Regions from separate parts of the Homo sapiens genome. Here all the other regions are linked to region 3. The links come from fine-mapping of genetic effects on gene expression. A gene starts in region 3. Each other region holds a variant in brackets. All regions are shown on one strand. Distances are from middle to middle. Region 1 overlaps IQGAP2 (IQ motif containing GTPase activating protein 2). Region 2 holds the start of LOC101929109 (a long non-coding RNA gene). Region 3 holds the start of IQGAP2 (IQ motif containing GTPase activating protein 2).

Evidence for each region. PIP is the estimated chance that this variant, and not a neighbour inherited with it, causes the effect.
Region 1: its variant is fine-mapped to the expression of IQGAP2 in whole blood (INTERVAL, PIP above 0.99).
Region 2: its variant is fine-mapped to the expression of IQGAP2 in whole blood (TOPMed, PIP above 0.99).

The regions. Positions count from the first base shown.
Region 1 is chr5:76,541,885-76,547,806 of GRCh38, reverse strand. The region is part of intron 2 of IQGAP2 (IQ motif containing GTPase activating protein 2); the gene reads right to left. Among named protein-coding and RNA genes, the nearest start is that of F2RL2, 79 kb to the left of the region's middle. RefSeq lists an enhancer at 1-277 and a silencer at 3,212-3,261. The variant C/A (reference allele first, on the strand shown) is at 2,552.
Region 2 is chr5:76,608,363-76,614,284 of GRCh38, reverse strand. IQGAP2 (IQ motif containing GTPase activating protein 2) reads right to left here. Exons shown (of 36, transcript NM_006633.5): 13 at 3,102-3,265. LOC101929109 (a long non-coding RNA gene) reads left to right here and starts at 5,316. Exons shown (of 2, transcript NR_134278.1): 1 at 5,316-5,425. RefSeq lists an enhancer at 5,404-5,453. The variant T/C (reference allele first, on the strand shown) is at 3,045.
Region 3 is chr5:76,400,588-76,406,509 of GRCh38, reverse strand. It overlaps IQGAP2 (IQ motif containing GTPase activating protein 2), which reads right to left and starts at 3,225. Exons shown (of 36, transcript NM_006633.5): 1 at 2,919-3,225. The coding sequence starts at 2,964. RefSeq lists silencers at 2,914-3,023, 3,194-3,543 and an enhancer at 2,760-3,260.

The sequences.
Region 1 (5,922 bases), 140 kb before region 3:
TAGAACTTGCTACAGGGGAGACTGAGCTGTCATGTCTGTTTGCAGTGCAAAGCACCTTCAGTTTTACAAGATAACCATGAGCTGGGGTGCAGAGGTAAAGTAAAGAAGAAAGAACCGAAAGTACTCAGCAGAAGTTTCCTGGCACATCAACAGTCATCTGAGGCTTACGCATACATTTTGGTCTAAATAACAACTTAAGACTTGATGAAGCAGATTCTCCTTCCTGGGTTTGTCTACACTGTGCACATGCTCTAACCACAAAATAATCACTGTTCTTGCACTTTTAACACGTCTTTGCCCCAACGTAGGCAGGAAAATGAAAGCAACAAGCTTAATAAGATCATTGTAAACTTACTTAAATTGCCACAACTCCTTCCTACACTTGACTTCCCTCTTCTAAGCCCCAAGCAAGTATTCAATATGGAATTGTTAAATAATGGACATTCCAGAACACCAAGAGAATGCCATAAAGCCAGCCCATATTTCAACATAGAAGAAACAAAACTGGCAAAAGCTGTATCCAGTATGAATTTCCTTCCTTCTCTTCCTCCCCTTAAACTACAGTTATCTTATGTCCAAAGTTAACCCTTTCTTGGAGGTGGTGAATGAGGGAGAGTTACACAGACTGATTCCTCTACAGCCTAAAGGATCAAAAGAGAATAGCTCGCAGCAGGTAGTGTGAAGTAATAGCACAGTGAAAAATTCAACTGTGAGGAATGTCATCTTAATACCATATTTGCAGTGCTTTCTTCCTCTAGCTATGTCCTTTGTCCAGCCCTTATTGATTTCCCCCACCTCCACTACCAGCTGTACCAAGGAAGTGACAAACAGGGACTCACTAGATGCCGTCAATCATTGTCACCAAGAAGAGAAAAAAAGAATCCAACATATGTTCTTGCAAATGCCTCCCACTCTCCACTCCCACCTCTTCCTCTTCACTGACACACAGTCTTTATAAGCAGTAGGCCACTTTTTAATATCCCTCGAGTGAAAACGTTTGAGGCACAGATAGGAGGAGCATCCCAAGCACCATTCTTTCCTGACATGTGTGTCCGTAGTTACAGTTCACAGTGCAAGCGGCAAGACCAAGGCAGTGTTGCCCACCAATGAGTTACTGCCAATCCTGACTACAGAGAGCAGAAGGGCTGCTGATGATTAAACCAATGCTGCTCTTGTGCCAGGCGTGACAGAGGAACAGAAAGATGTACAATACAGGTAGCAGATGGTACTCTCTGCAACTCATTCTGACGACATAACAGGAGTTTCCTATTTGTCTGCTGACCACCATGACGCCTGGTATATCAATTCCTATGGCAACAGCTCTAAGTATAGTGCACTACAAATAAAAAGTGGTGTATTGTTTTGTTTTTTTGAAATGGAGTCCCACTCTGTCCCTCAGGCTGGAGTGCTGTGGCATGATCTCAGCTCACTGCAACCTCTGCCTCCCAGGTTCGAGGATTCTCCTGCCTCAGCCTCCGGAATAGCTGAGATTACAGGCACACGCCACCACACCTGACCAATTTTTGTATTTTTAGTAGAGATGGGGTTTCACCACGTTGGCTAGGCTGGTTTTGAACTCCCGACCTCAAGTGATCTGCCCACCTCGGCCTCCCAAAGTGCTGGGATTACAGGTGTGAGCCAACACACCCGGCCAAAAAGGGGTGTATTAAATGGATATAGACACCTGTGTTCATTTCTGGAAATAAAGCAAGAGGTAAAATGTGGCCACTTCCATCACATGCTATAGGAGAATTTTTCTCTGGCTCAATAATTCCCTATTGGGCATCTGTTCTGGCTTAAGAAAAAGAAAATCAACAAAGACCAATGATACGCATGTAACCACAATGATATTAAAAATAAAAAACTCAGATGTCTGATGACAGGAGAGAGTGTGAAGTAATAACTGATTATATAAATGGAATACTATACAGCCATTAATATTTATGACAAATTAGCAAAATGGAGGAAAGTTGAAATAGTAAAGTGAGTAAAACAGTAACACAAAAGTACATGCACTTTTTGTCATGTGTGTCAACATGTGAAAAAACCTGGGTAAAAAGTCACAAAGATTGCTTCAAGTATTTTCCAAATCTCAGTTTGGCCCTACAAAGACAGATAGCAATGAAGTGGATTCACACCTAGTAAAATGGATGGAACTTTCAAAGCCTAGTAAAAAAAACTAAGGAACAGAATGAGATAGCCATACCATTTGCATAAATTAAAAATACTTACACACAAAACAAGATCCATTGCAAGAATACACACAAATCTAAATGATACATTGTATACATATCAGAATGTTGCCTATGGGAGGGAGGGAACCAGGGATAAAAGGAAATAACTTTTAGGGGTCCAGCACAAACCAGAGTCCACCATGTGCCCAGAGATACTGTGTACCATGACCTAAAGGGTGTGTCGGCTTAACCTTTGCCCCCGAGGTCCTTTGGCAAGGCTAGGCATGGTTTTAAAATTGTAGTGGAAACTGGTGCAATTTCAGACCACCACACATTTCCTCTCCACGGCATGTCCCTTGCTCCCAAACAGTAGCTGC[C/A]TTTTATGATGCCACTTCTGTTCGGTCCATTTCTAATTTTCCTTGTGTTTAACAAGATTGAAAGGCTGCAGGAAATCATCATTAATAAGAAATATTTAATCATATCGCTATTGTATACACATCCATGTTACACAACAGTGTAACAATTGTATAGTTTTATATACATAGTTATGTGTATATATGTATGTATATGTAGAGATAACTATATAGAAGAAAACTATAGATATGTATATATGTACTGTATACAACTACATATGTATATATTTACATATAGTACATATATACATATATACTGTATATAACTACATATATACTGTAGACATATATATGTACTGTATATAACTACATACATACTGTATAGAACTACATATAGTTCTATCGCTATAGAGTTACCTATAAAGTATGGATAACTATTCAGAAATTATTCCCACTAGGCTACAAAAGAAACTGGCAATAATGTTTACCTTTGGGAAGGGGAACTGGGTGGGAGAAAGATATAATTTTCACTGTCCCCTCCTTTGGGCCTTTTACATTTTGCACCACGTGTATATATGACCAAAAAAAATTAAAGCACTTAATTAAGCAACCACTCACTCTGTACACATAACATTACACAGTAGGCTTAAGAAGTAAAGTGTTCCAATTATACCAGAAGCAGTAAAAATCTGACCAAGTTCTCTCTAAGCTGCATCCTGGTGTGCCTTAGCTAGATCCATCTCCACCCAGCACAACCACAGGCAGCTCACAAGGTGGCAGCATTTGCTGCTGTGCTTGGCTATATGTCCTTGATTTTATATGTAGGTTAATAATCAATTAGAGCCCTGCCACCCAGAATATCCTCCTAGGCCCCAAGTCGGCTGGGAACTGCTCTCTCTGTCAAGTGGCCCTGTCCTTGAGTCTCAGTGCTTCTTGGCTCTGAGGATTGTAGACTCTCTTGTGAACCATCGTGGGCTGTAGGAACCCCTGGGGGATTCAGGGTCTTTACTCCTTGACAAAGAAGGCATGTTAAAAATTGTTTCAAATGAAGGTTCTTATCTTAGAAGTCAGTTTATTTACTGTCTGCCAGCTTTTTGGTCAGAGCAGCAGACATTTGGGGTGCCATGGCCATGGGAACAGGAAGATGATGAGAGGAACAGGCTGCCAGGAAAGCGTGGCTTTGGACTGGCTAGAAAGTGATGCCTACCAGGACCCATTCCTACAGCATGTTCAGGAATGGGGCATCTTAACTGCTATCCACAGTAAATTCTCACTCAGAAAGACTTGCAGGCGCTTAGGAGTTTCCAGACAGATAGTTAAGTACCATTTCACCTGCCTAACAATTTCATTATTGTTCTGTATTGACATAGACATCAGAAATAGAGAAAACTTCTTTCTGCGGCACACCCTAATGGGGGGAAATGTAAGTCAACCTGACAAAACAAAAACAAAAACAAAAAACAAAAAACCTCGTCCCATCTACCTTGAGAAATAAAAGACAAGTGGAGCTTTTAGGAGGGAGGGGCAAGATGAAGCCAGGAAACAAACTGTTACAAAATAAGAAAATACAAGTCCAAACTCACAACTGACTACTATGCCCAGTCAGGAAAAAGAAGACAGATAAGAAGAGATTGATGGATGCAAAAAGAAACTGGCTGAGAAGCAGAAGACAAACACATGCACCACAGGTTTCCCTGACAGGAAGCACAAATCATTGGTACTGACTTGGTGACAACGAGGTTCCCAGCTCCATCTCCTGGGCAAATGATCAACAGCTCCTCAGAGAAACATGCTGGAGGGCCGTGATGCCTGAGAGTGAAGGCAAGGAGGCCGGTCCACCTAGGCTCTGAGGCCCGCTTGCACATTTACGTCCCTCCAACCATCATCAAGCACTGGCTCTTGATCACTGAAATGCTTCACCTTTAATGAAGTCATTAGCGACCACACAGAGAGACGGGCTGAAAACCACAAGGGGTGTCATGCGAAGGTTTGAGGGAACAGGAGCTGGTTATAAGAGAACTCTATTCCACTCTGGCGTTCTTGAGTTTCAGGAAATATGGCTTGAGCAGCAGTACAGCCAGCTCTGTGCAATAACAAATCATGCTGCGAGGGTGTTCTGGGCCGGCTTGGGTTTCACAATGCCTCCATTTCATGGCTGTGACGCAGCTTCACCCTACACCTTCCAGTACTGATTATCTGTAAGACACAGGATCTGAAGCGGCCAATTATCATCTTCACAATCTAAACAGCTACAGCCATTGCTAACTGTATTTCCTGACCACAGACATGAAACATTTGTATTTCTTGTGCCTTAATTCTAGCATATACAAAGACTATTAAATGAATGGGCACACACACAGATATAAAGTCCTTACATATGTGAAAAGATTTCTCTATAACGTAAACAGTGGATACAACTAGCAAGCAGAGGCCTACAATTAGGTGGCAATGACAGAAGAGCCACTCTATGTTAGAATGTGGCAGAGCTAAAAGGGTGTATCTACCTGATGGGCAGATGCAAAACATGATATCCAATTGTTCCAGGTATGAGGAGACAAATTTAATGCAACTTTTAACCAGTAGAAACCAATCTGTTGATAAGACCTGTCCCTCAAGGGGCTCAAGGGATGCAAGGATAAATGAAGAGATTTCAGATTTTATCAGGAAAGAAAGTGTCAGTGGAGGTATTAAGTAGCTAGGTAGAACAGAAGTATTAGTCATATCTAATCACCTCGATTATTTATATAAGTTGGAATAAATCCAAACTAACTTTAGCCTCAGAAAATCCACTCTAACAGGGCGGGCTTGGAAACAGATACCTGCAGGGGTGAGGCCGGTACCGGTAAGGAACGAAGCTGGCTGGGTGGGGGCTGTAAGCAACTTGGCTCTAGCTCACAGCTACTTGTGGAAATGTGGACCACAAGGGCCTGACCTTTGGGATTTCTTGAAAAGTGGAAGATTCAGATTTTTTATGAGTTCTTCTGTTTTTTTAAATGCTCACAACTAACTGAAAAATAGTGGCCGGGCACAGTGGCCCATGCCTGTAATCCCAACACTTTGGGAGGCCAAGGCAGGAGGACTGCTTGTGCCCAGCAGTGTGACACCATCTCTATCAATTTTTTTTTTTAATTAGTATGGCATGGTGTTGCATGCCCATAGTCCCACCTACTCAGAGGGCTGAGGTGGGAGCATTGCTGCAGCCCAAGAGGGTGAGGTTTCAGTGAGCTGTGATTGCACCACTTCATGCTAGTCTGGGTGACAGAACAAGTCGCTGTCTCAAACACATACACACATACACGCACACAAAAAATAAACATTCTGCACGTTGAATCAAATACATCTAAAACTCTTATTACAGTATTTCAAAGGAGATGAAACTATGCTCTGCATGTTCT
Region 2 (5,922 bases), 210 kb before region 3:
CACCTAGAAAGGATGCCTGACACAGAGCTGGCATGGTGTGGGCACTCAGGGGCTTCTTTCAAAGGACGCCTGTGGAGTTCCATCTCAATCTAGATTGGAATGCTCAGTCTAGAAGGGACCTATACTGCCTGCCTATGAAAGGCCTTGGGTTTGTGGAGTCAGGCTCACCTCAAAGACAAACCCCCATGTGGCTGTGGGCAGACAGGGACCCAGGTCTGTCTCTATTTGTCCTCAGAAGATCCTGACTTTGGTGTGTAAATTCAGCAGACTCTACGTCTAGTAAGAACCTTGAAGCCGGGTGCGGTGGCTCATGCCTGTAATCCCAGCACTTTGGGAGGCCGAGGCAGGTGGATAACCTGAGGTCAGGAGTTCAAGACCAGCCTGGAAAACATGGTGAAACCTCGTCTCTACAAAATACAAAAATTAGCCGGGCTTGATGGCAGGTGCCTGTAGTCCCTGCTACTCGGGAGGCTGAGGCAGGAGAATCGGTTGAACCTGGGAGGTGGAGGTTTCCGTGAGCTGATATGGCGCCACGGCACTCCAGCCTGGGTAACTGAGCGAGACTCCACCTCACAAAAAAAAGAACCTTAAGATACTGACATCACTCGCCCCTTACTTGGGAGGCAACCATAGGTGCCCACAATAATACTAGCTACATTATTTAAGCCCTTTTTTTGGTGCCAGGCTCCATGCTAAATGCTATAGCTACACAAACACGTGCACATATTCTTCATTAATAGTACCTATAGTTATATATTGATATATATTTACATATTGTATATTCTCATTGAACCCTCACCATAATCCTATAAGACAGGTACTATTATTCCAATTTTATACATGCAAAAATAAGCATATAGAGATTTGATGATTTGACCAAGATCACATAACTAATTTGTGGCAAAGCCAGGATTTGAATGATGTCTATCTTCAAAGCAAATAACTTTGTCTTCCAATGCTTGTAAGTTTACCATGTGCCATGGCCACAGCCACCTCAGTGGAAACATCAAGGTGAAGGCCCACTCTCCTGCCCCTGGGATGTATGGACTCCAGGCTTGTGTATGAGCCCTCACTCTCCCACTCACTGGCTGTACCTTGGCCAGGCATTCGCCCTGAGCCTCAGGCTCGTTCACATCAGATGAGACAGCACCCATTCCACAGGTGGTATGAGGCTTAAATGAGAAAGACTGATGTGAGTGGGGGCGCTTGGCAAAGTGAGGAGGGTCAGGCAATGCCACTGCCGTTCCTGTTGGAAGGCTGGCAGTGCAGAGGGCGCCACCATGGGGGATACATTTCTCCACCTTCAATGAGGCAGTGGAGTAGTGAGGATAGGATTTACATTGGTTTTTAAAAGTTTAGAAACAGTAATTATTTAATACACACACTCCTTAAAAAATTTAAAAATCCAAGCAGTACAAAAACGGAGTGAAGAATAAATCTCCCATCCATACTAGCCTTCTAGTTCACCTTCCAGAAGGTATCCTCCCTCCAGAAATATTTTAGACACATGTAAGAGTGTGTGCGCCCCTCCCCCAACACATACACAAGCCTATCTATATTCCATCTATGTGCACATCACAGCATGATTTTTTTTTTGCTTAACAACATTTAGGTTGTTTTTCATGTTTTGTGATTGCAAACAAAGCTGCAATAAACATCTTTTCCCATCTGCCTTAATACATAATTATAATGTTTCCGAATCAGACAGACCTGAGCTGCATGTAGTCTCAGGACTAATTATCTTTTAGATAGCTTGATTTTGTTTTATTTTATTTTATGTATTTATTTTCGAGACAGAGCCTTGCTCTGTCACCCAGGTGGGGGTGCAATGGTGCGATCTCAGCTCGCTGCAACCTCTACCTCTCGGTTCAAGAGATTCTTGTCCCTCAACCTCCCAAGTAGCTGGGATTATAGGTGTGAGCCACCACACCTGGCTAATTTTTTATTTTTTATTTTTATCTTTTAGCAGAGATGGGGTTTCACCATGTTTGCCAGGCTGGTCTCGAACTCCTGGCCTCAAGTGATCCACCTGCCTTGGCCTCCCGAAATGCTGGGATTACAGGTGTGAGCTACTGTGCCCGGTCACATTTTAGATAGCTTTCAACAAGTTACTTAATCTTGGTTTCATTATGTGTAAGATGGCAATAATGATGGCAAAATGGTTCAGAAGGCTGTTATGAATTGTTGTGATGATTAAATGAGATGATACACATGAGTATCTAATATCATGCCTGACAAATAGTAGGTTCTCAATAAATGTTTGCATTAACCAAGGATGTTTTTCCTGTTTCGAATGAGGCAGTTCCTAGGTTCTAAAGACCTAGACAGAGGAGATGACCGCCCTTTCAGTTGGGTTTGCACCTGAAGACATGGCAGCCATAAGTAGCTAGGTCCCAGGTGGCATCACTCCCACTCTTAGGTGACAGATCATATCAGCCTCACCACTCAGCCCATTGGCCTTATCACAGAGGCCAGTCTTTGTGGGGCTCCTTATAATAGCGGTACAAGCTCTGTACTCAGAAAAAGCCACTAGTCTTCGAGAGGACAGCTTCTGCTCTACCTCCACACCAACTTCTCTTAGGATTCTAGTCCCCGACAATCTCAAACATCCGTGAATCAATCTGTGTATCTCTCATTTTGACACTTTGCACACCCTTATCTTTACTATTACTTGACTGTTCCATGTGACAATGTCCACTGCCTCAATCAGTTTCTAAGCATTTTGAAGATAAGGTCAGAGAACATTCAAATGGTATTATGTGTCCCTCTGTATCCCCATCTTCTCTACCAGAAGCTATGGACTGAAGTGTGCACATAGTATCTACTAAGGAAATAGTCAATGAATTGAACTCTGAACAAGAACTCACCTACAACTGAGTTTTTAGTCAAAGAATTAAAGCAATAAATAGCTCTGGAGCTGGTTTCCCCCCAATGTTTGTTACCAGGAAAATAACAGCTCTATTATTTCCATTCTGATTCATGGGTAATTGTTGGGACAAGAAGCTCATGAGATTTAACGTAAATGGGTCAAATCCTCCTCCTTC[T/C]CTCCCTCTGCCACCCAGCCTGTAAAATTTAAAAGAAACAGATATACTAAAACTTACTCCGAGTTTCTGTGATTTAGCATGGTATAAAACATCCTGGTAGTGCTGGGCATGGGCTGGGTCCACATCACTAATATTCGCAGTAGGTAGGAGCAAAGTTTCTAAAGTCCTCAAAGGATTCCCTTCATCAATAGCTTCATTGATGTACCCTACAGCTACAACTCCTAGAAAATGAAGAAGTAGTTTTCCTTTTAAGTCACAGTACATTATAACTTCTTTAGTATCACCGATTGCAAAAGGCTAATTAACTAGTACAGCAAGGCTATAGGATGCAAGATGCAAGCACAAAACCAATTATGTGTCTATACGCTCATAATAAGCAATCTGAAAATAAAATTAAGAACACATTCAATTCATAAGACTGCAACTACAAATACATTATAATTATAAATAAATATTTAGACATAATTTAATGAAAGAAACATAAGACATGTACACTGAAAACTATACAACACCATGGGAAAAAACTTAAAGACAAATAAATGAAAAGAGCCAATGTTCATGAATTGGAAGATTTAGTATTGTTAAGATGGAAATACTTCTTAAATTGACCTACAGATTCAATGCAACTTCTATCAAGGTCCCAGCTGCTGGTTTTTATTTTTATTTTTTTTTTTTGAGAGATTCTTGCTCTGTCCCCCAGGCTGGAGTGCTGTGGCATGATCTTGGCTCACTGCCACCTCCGCCTCCTGTGTTCAAGTGATTCTTGTGCCTCAGCCTCCTGAGTAGCTCTCTACATTCTGACCAACACTTGTTATTGTCTTTTTCATTACAGCCATCCTAGTGGGTGTGAAGTGGTATCATACTGTGGTTTGGATTTGTATTTTTCTAGTGACTAATGATTTTGAGCATCTTTTCATGTGTTTATTTTCCCTTTGTACATCATCTTTAAAGAAATGAAGTGTCTATTCAAGTCCCAGCTACTTGGGAGGCTGAGGTAGGAGAATCACTTGAATCCAGGAGGCAGAGGTTGCAGTGAGCCAAGATTGCACCACTGCACTCTAGCCTGGGTGACAGAGTAAGACTCTGTTCCCCCCACCAAAAAAAAAAAAAAAAAAAAAAAAAAAAATATATATATATATATATATATATATATATATATATATAGAGAGAGAGAGAGAGAGAGAGAGAGAAAGAGAGAACAAGACTGACTATAGGGTTCACAAATGAAAAGCACAGAAGTCAAACTATGAAACCTGCTTTTACAATTCTAATGAAACGGATCTATCTGGAGGTTACTTCTCAATACCTTATTATTAAAAAATAAACTATCATCCATTCATAAAAAAATGCATTTAGATAGACATGCACACACAGACACACACACACACACACACACACATATATATATAAAACACACATATACACACACTGCCAAGGAGCTTTTGCTTCCTAGGTTAGTACTGATGGATAAGAACTGTTAAAGAAACTAGATATTAATGAACAATAAGCTTAGAATATAAGCATTTTTAAGGTCAAACTTCATATTTCTCATTTTTTCCATTAGATTTAATCTAAAATGATCACCCGTCACTTCACAACTGTGATATGCCATGAAATAGAATGAGTACTTCTCATTTTTAAAAAAAGTATCTCCAGCTTGACATTCAAGTAAAGATAAAATATTTAGCTAAATATTTCTTGAATAGATGAGCCCATAACCACCACTTCGTTAAGAATGAAAAGATTTACCTGTAAGAAGAATGAAACCATCTAAAACTCCTAGAAATCATTCCAGACTATAATACTTAAATATGTTTGAAGAAAAAGCAGAAGTATTTCTCTAATGTGCAGGTTATATTATCTGTAAACATTGACAGAACTCTGGAAAGTCTAAGTATTATCTATATACAAGGTACTGTCGTTTTACCCTATAGGATTTATAAACTGGAGTGCATGGAATATTTAGTGCCATTCTCTGGTCACCCCCCTTGGGTAAGCTGTTCTAAATACCTTTAAAACACCCCATCCAAAAATGGTCTTAACAGAACCAAGGCCGATCACCTGGAAGTGAGTGCATTTCAGCTGACTTGATTGAAATCACCTGCTAAAGTTGCTGTCTGCTGCGTTTCTAAGAATACAAGCTGCTGAGGTCATAGTGAATGACATCATAGGAGCTGAAAGATTACCCAGAAGCCCTCTGGGAACATATGCATCACTTCCTCTGTTTATAAATAAAAGGGAAATCCTATTTGAAGAAAGATTGCTGAGCTTCACTCAGCCCACGGTCCACTTCTTTACATCAACACATGTTACTATAACATTCTAGTCCACAAGAGAGTGGGCGTTCTTTTAGAGTTCATGTATTTGAGGCAGCAGATGAGGTAACCTACACAGAATTGTACCTACCAAATTTAAAGAGCAAAAACTCAAAGAAGAAAACTTCCTGATGTAGGCTATAAGGTTAAAATAATGCTCCTTTATGGTTCTACTGGGAAAAGTAAACTTTTCAGTAAGAAATCAACAGAGCCTGAGGAAATGCATTCAGCAGCTAGCTTCTCCATTAAATTCACCTTCTATATTTCTCATTTTCCATTAGCTGCTTACCTCACCCACATCACAACTCAGATATGGAATTAGATCTCAGAGCATGTGGCAAGAATAAGGTGGGGAGGCAAGAGTAATGCACCTTCAAAACGTCCATGAAAAATTCTCAGCTCCTCAGATGACTTAATTACTATACTGAGCAATTCCTGCCTGGTTACAATGGTGTATTTTAGAAATTTTAGATTTTGAAGAATTGCCTAAACATGATATCAAACTCAATACTTCAGGAACTCATTCTGACAAAAGAAAAAAATAAAACCAAGACACAGATAAA
Region 3 (5,922 bases):
TACATACTATGTCTATGTCTGCATTAGTTTAAACAGCTACCTACTATCACTTCCTTCTTCCACCTCTTCCCTTCAGAATTGTGTTACTGAATTGTTTCAGCTTTGTTTGTAGTATTAACATTATACAAAAATAGCTTCACAGATTGCAGGAAGATGTGGCCAATAACAGTGGAAATTAAATAGAAAATAGTCTATTTAATTTCAATCCAGTGCTCCTGTGTGCAAATCAGGGCGACTTCAGCAATCTTGCATCTGTCAGAAACCTGAGAAGAGTCAGAGGCCTCATGGAGAACTCATTGAGAAATCCCTCAAGTACAATTTATTATGTGGCCTTTTACAGACATTCAGTCTGGTACAGAGGAGAAAGACCATAGCAGCCCTGAGCTGAGTTAGTTACTTTGTGTAAGAACTACTGAATTAAATGAGGAGTCAAGTGGGTAGGAGAGAGAGCAGAACAGAAGCTCAGACCCAAAATAAGCAATAGACAACTTAATTCAAACTACCAAAAAGTTGTGTTTAAAGCCCAGTCTCAAACATCTTATACTCAGAACGTTCAGCACTAGAACTGAAATTACAATGTATTGCTACTTTATTTTTAAATGCTAGGGGTAACACCTGTTTCTTATAATTTGAGGTTTTACTGAAACTGTATTTACCAAACCAATAAACAAGAAAAAGCACAGCCCTAGAACACAACAGAGCAAGGACAATCCTGTGTTATCCTTCCCTAGCCTTCCCATGAAGAGCTCACAGCACGATTTTCAGTCTCATGTTGATAGGAGGCTCAGAAAGCCAACAACAACCAGAAATTACACTAACACACCAAATAGCCCTCTTCTGCATGAATAGGTAATGTTAGGTAATGCCTATTAACGCCAAAATCTATTCTGCTAGATATCATGTTCTGAATACACTGAAAATACACCATTCATAAACCAAAATTATAAAAGTGTTCATTTTAATGAGATAACTGTCATATTAAAGCCTTAATATTTCAGGGTGACAAGAAAGTCTGGAAACATAGGCAAATATTTTCCATTTTGACAGTGTTAAGTGACCAACTTGAATGCCAGCACTTGATGAGTGGAGGGAAAGTAACCGGGAGTGATTCCAACAAGATGGCACACCACCCCCTTACACCACATTGGTGAAGAAAGCTGGATGAAGATTTCCAAAGAAAGCGGCCCTGTGGAGTGGGCTTCAGGCTTGCCAGATCTGGACTCCCTTGATAGCTTCTTCTGGAGTGCACTTAAAACACAGATTTATTCCGTGAAAATCAAGCAGCATCACAGATGCACATGCAGGGACTGACAGAAATGCTGCATTCATGTACCACATTCACGGAAATTTTGCACTATTTATTGCTCATGAGGGCCGACATCAATCATGTGATAGCAAGAAATCATTTGTTCATGTAGATTCACCTAGTTTGCAGAAGTTTGTGGTTATCTTATCATTTGACACAGTGAAGCCACCATATATTCTGAGAGCTGGTCACATTAAAGTACTTCCACCAACCTGAGGTTGGCACTGCAAACACTGAATGAGCACAGCATTCCTCCTTGAACCCAACGGGCTCTGCTGTATCTGTGGTTTACCAAAAGGCAAAAAGCTGGGTCCCACCTGAGGTTGGCACTGCAAACACTGAATGAGCACAGCGTTCCCTCTTGAACCCAAGAGGCTCTGCTGTCTGTGTGGTTTACCAAAAGGCAAAAAGCTGGGTCTCAGTCAACTGCTGAATGCATTAGAGTACAGAGGCTGTAGTCCTCAGGCCTCCCCCTCACTGCAAGGGTAACACAGGAAAGATAACCTCCCATCTTTGACACGCCAGCGGGGAGGAGGGGAAAGAACCTACACAAGTTGAGGAGCCCTTTTTCAGTTAAGCAAGTCAGTGGCCTTACGCACCATCCAAAACCACACACACACACAAACAAAACACCCTGCTGAAGGTATCACCACCTTAACCCAAACCTGGTACCTCTGCCACCAAGGCCAGCCTGGGCAAAGATTAACCTGTGGTCTTCGGCCTTGGGTTCACTGACAGGGCCACCTTGGAGAGACAGCAGGCCAACTTTCTGTTTGTTTTAAAGGAAATGCTTCCTGGCACATGTTTAGGACTCTGAACTCTGCACATGAAGCCACGTGGTTGGTGTTAATCTGGCTCCATCCACTCACGATCGGCCAAAGCAACCTATTTCCGAGGGCAGCCCCTGGCTGGGTAATCGACACCATCTCGTTCAAGTCACGCGGGCTCCCGCCGGATTCCCCGGAGCCTAGTGCCGCGTCCTCTCCACACAGCAATCCTCCCGCGCGAGGGGAGCGGGGGGGAAAGGGGTTGGGGGGTTTCAGAGGGGAGGGACTTACACCTGTGAGGCCAATGGCTCTAGCGGGTCAGGTGAAGTTCGAGGGCGCGGGACAGGAGGAGACTCCCGCCCTTCCAGTCAAGCCGGCTTTGCACTAGCAGAGTGCGCCGGCGCCCTACTTGCGGTGCCCACCTGTAGCCACAGCAAACAAACTTTCCTCCCCTTCTGGGTTGGAAGAATCCGGTGCCTTACGCCACCCCCTGGCCCAAGCCGGCGGCGACCCGGAGCTCCGCGGACTCCTCACCTGATACCCCTAAAATCCCAACCTGGTCTGTCCCAGAGCGCAATCCCCGCACTGCCCGCGCACCCCGTTTGGGTATGCGGAGTGGAGGGTCTGGGTTGCCAGCTGGATATTAGGAATTGGGGGGCGGGAGGAGCGGGGGGACGCGATTCACTGCCCTTTGCAACTCCAGCTCCCAACTTTGCCAGCCGCGCAGTTGCTGCCTTCCAATTTCCTCTGCGCCGCGCAACCGGCTCCCTCGGCTTCTCCAACGCCGTCCTCGGGGAGGGAGCTCCCCAAGGCCAGCAGGAACCCCGCGCGCCCGGCGCACTTACAGCCATAGCGGGGTCTCTGCAGCGACGGCAGCTCTTCGTGTGGCATCCTGCGCGTCTCCGGGGGCCCGCCCGGGGCGCGCCCCCCGCGGCTACCCTCGCTGGCCAGGCTCGCGGGCTCTGCGCCCCGCCGGCGCGCTCGGATCCCGCCTCTCGCCGATTTCCCCTAGCCGCCCGAAGATCTGCGACCCACTCCCTCGGTGCTCTCTCGCCAGAGCCAGCCACGGCCGCCGCGCGCTGACACTGAAGTAAAAGTGAACTCTCCTCCCTCGCTCCCTGGCCGGTCGCCGCCGCCTCCCGCAGCAGGTTTCCTTTCTCCTCCAGCCAGGCCCCGTTATTCACCGCGGTGGGAGCGCGCGCCGAGACGCAGCGACCCCTACCGCGTGTCGGGCGCAGCGCCCAGGCCGCGTGGACCCGCCCCTTCTCCCCCGGGGGAGAGGGAAGGGGCCGAGAGGGACGCTGGGCCGGGACCCCCTGCAGCTGGGGCCCCCGCACAGCTGGTGGCCTGGGGGTGGCGGCCACCCCGCCTTATTTCTCGCTTCTGGAGAGTTTCGAGGGTGGAAGTGAACCAACGCGGAGAAGTGCAAGAAAAACCGCAGAAGTCACAGGGAGCCCTTCGTGTCCGGGGTGTTGCTCAGTTACTGAGGGACAAACAGCGCGGTTCCTTTTCCTCTGGGGAGATTTCACGTTGACTTTTGTTCTTCTTCTTCGTCTTTTTGGTTTTGTTTTTTTTTGTTTTTTTTTTTTTTTTGCTTCGAAAGTTGCTTCTGTCACTTTTTGTCTACAAAATAACAGGGTTCCCCTTATGACAAGAAACTGAGTGTGTGTGTGCTGGAGGAACAAGATAACCCAAGGCAACCACTCAAAACACAACTGCGAGTCATCCCCCTCCCTCCGATCACCTTGTGCCCGCCCCCGCCCCAGTGTGCAGAGCCTTCTCTCAAGCCCAGCTGGGGTCGCAAGCCACAGAAACCTTTTCCGGCTAAGCTTTTAAGGAAATTAAACTGCATGTGGCTGTTTTGAAATCGGGGTTTTCATGCGGTCGCCAGGAGCTATTTTTCTCTTTGTGTCTCAGCGTGATAAAATCTGGAGGGAATGCGGGACGCTTCCGTACCTGTGCCCTCACCTATTTGACAATTGTGGAATGTGTGGGTGACCCGATAACAGGAAAAACAAACTGAGGGAGGGCGATAAGAAATTATTTAGAGCCGGGCGCGGCGGCTCACGCCTGTAATCCCAGCACTTTGTGAAGCCGAGGCACAAGGATCCCTTGAGCCCAAGAGTTCCAGACCAGCCTGGGCAACATAGCGAGACCCCGTCTCTCCAAAAAATGAAAAAATAATATTAGCCGTATTAGCCGGGCGTGGTGGTTGCGCCTGCAGTCCCAAGCTACTCAGGAAGCTGAGGTGGGAGGATTGCTTGAGCCCGAGAGGACAAGGCTGCTGTGGGTTGTGATTGCACCAGTGCACTCCAGCCTGGGTGAGAGTGCAAGACCCTCGGAGGCGGTGGGGGGATGGAAATTATTTCGCTGAGGAAATGGTGGCATAGTGACACTAATCATTTTTTATTATGCAAGGATACAGAGGATGAGCAGCTGTTTTCCATTTCATATAGGAGACGCAGTCCTTCTCAAACTTGTTGAAACTCACATTCTTGGGCCCCACCCTCAGAATTTCCGACTCAATGGGTCTGGGCTGGTGCTCATGAATTTGCATTTCTAATTTCTAGCATACTGCCAGGTGATGCTGACACTGCAGAGCGTGCTTAGGGTGGCTCTGTGAGTGGTAGATGCTCACAGGGACGTAAACTGTACACAGGGAACTCTCAATTCAGACGGGATAGCAAAATATTTTTTTTTTTTCCCTGATGGCATTAGATTCTCACCTGTTTGGAATGGGATGAATGGAGTTTTCCTTTCTTAAAAAGCAGATGCCTCTCAGTCTAAGAACAATTCAGAGGCGAAATGGCCACATTTGAGGCTCGGCACCCTGTCAATTGATATTCACCCAAAGGAGAAATGTGGAAGGGGATTTTCGTGCATGTCAGGAGATGCTGAATTAAATGATGTCTAAAGTTCATTCCATTTCTGTTGTTGCATTTGTCAAGTGTTAACAATTAAGTATTTACACATAACAATTTTCGTATGAGTGTATGACTTAGAGCCCAAATAAATGAGTAGTCTATATATTTAGAGGTGGGTGAAAAAATCACTCTGAACTAAAATGGTCCAGGAAGGTGACAGGGTTTGAAAGTGTGGCTTGAAGTGGAAGTGTGGTAAAAGCTGGATGGAGAGCATCCAAGGGAAAGAAACAATGAGGTGGAGCACAAGGTTGGGTTGGAGCTGGATTGGTTGGACTGGATTGGAGCTATGAAGTTGTCATCAGGTTGTGGAGGGCCCTGAGTGTCTGGCTAAGAGGACCGGAGATTATCGTAGAAACATTCAAGAGATCTTAAAGGTTTTGAGTATGGAAGCTGCAGAATGCAAGGGAGTTTAGGGAAGGAGAATATTGGAGCAGGTCATAGGATAGGTTGGGATGGGACAACTTGGAGATGTTGACGCCCCGTGGAAGGTGTTTGGACAGAGATTGAAGAGAGAGGTAAGAAGAGCCTCAATGAGGCTGATATCAGTAAGGGAGATGAAGGGGGTGTTTTAATATACTCAAGTTGGTGCCATCAACATGTATAGATATTATACACACTAACAAGTAGATTAAGTAAAGTAAATATCTGTTAATCGTAGAAAGTGAAGGTTAAAGCGTAAATAGGTGATTGGGAGGGCAGTAGTTCTAAGTTCATGTTCTAGCTGGTCAGCTCTTTGAAGAATCTGAGGTGGCTTCAAGGCCCTGTCGTGGGTCATGTTTTTATGAAGAACTTAAAACACTAAGACGAAATTGGAAAGGCAAATGCTCTTGTTATTTTGCAAGTGCTAGCATTAATCATGGGCATTTTGGTCTGCACTCATTGGGTAATAACAATACTGTCTCACAGGCCACTTCACCTCAGCATC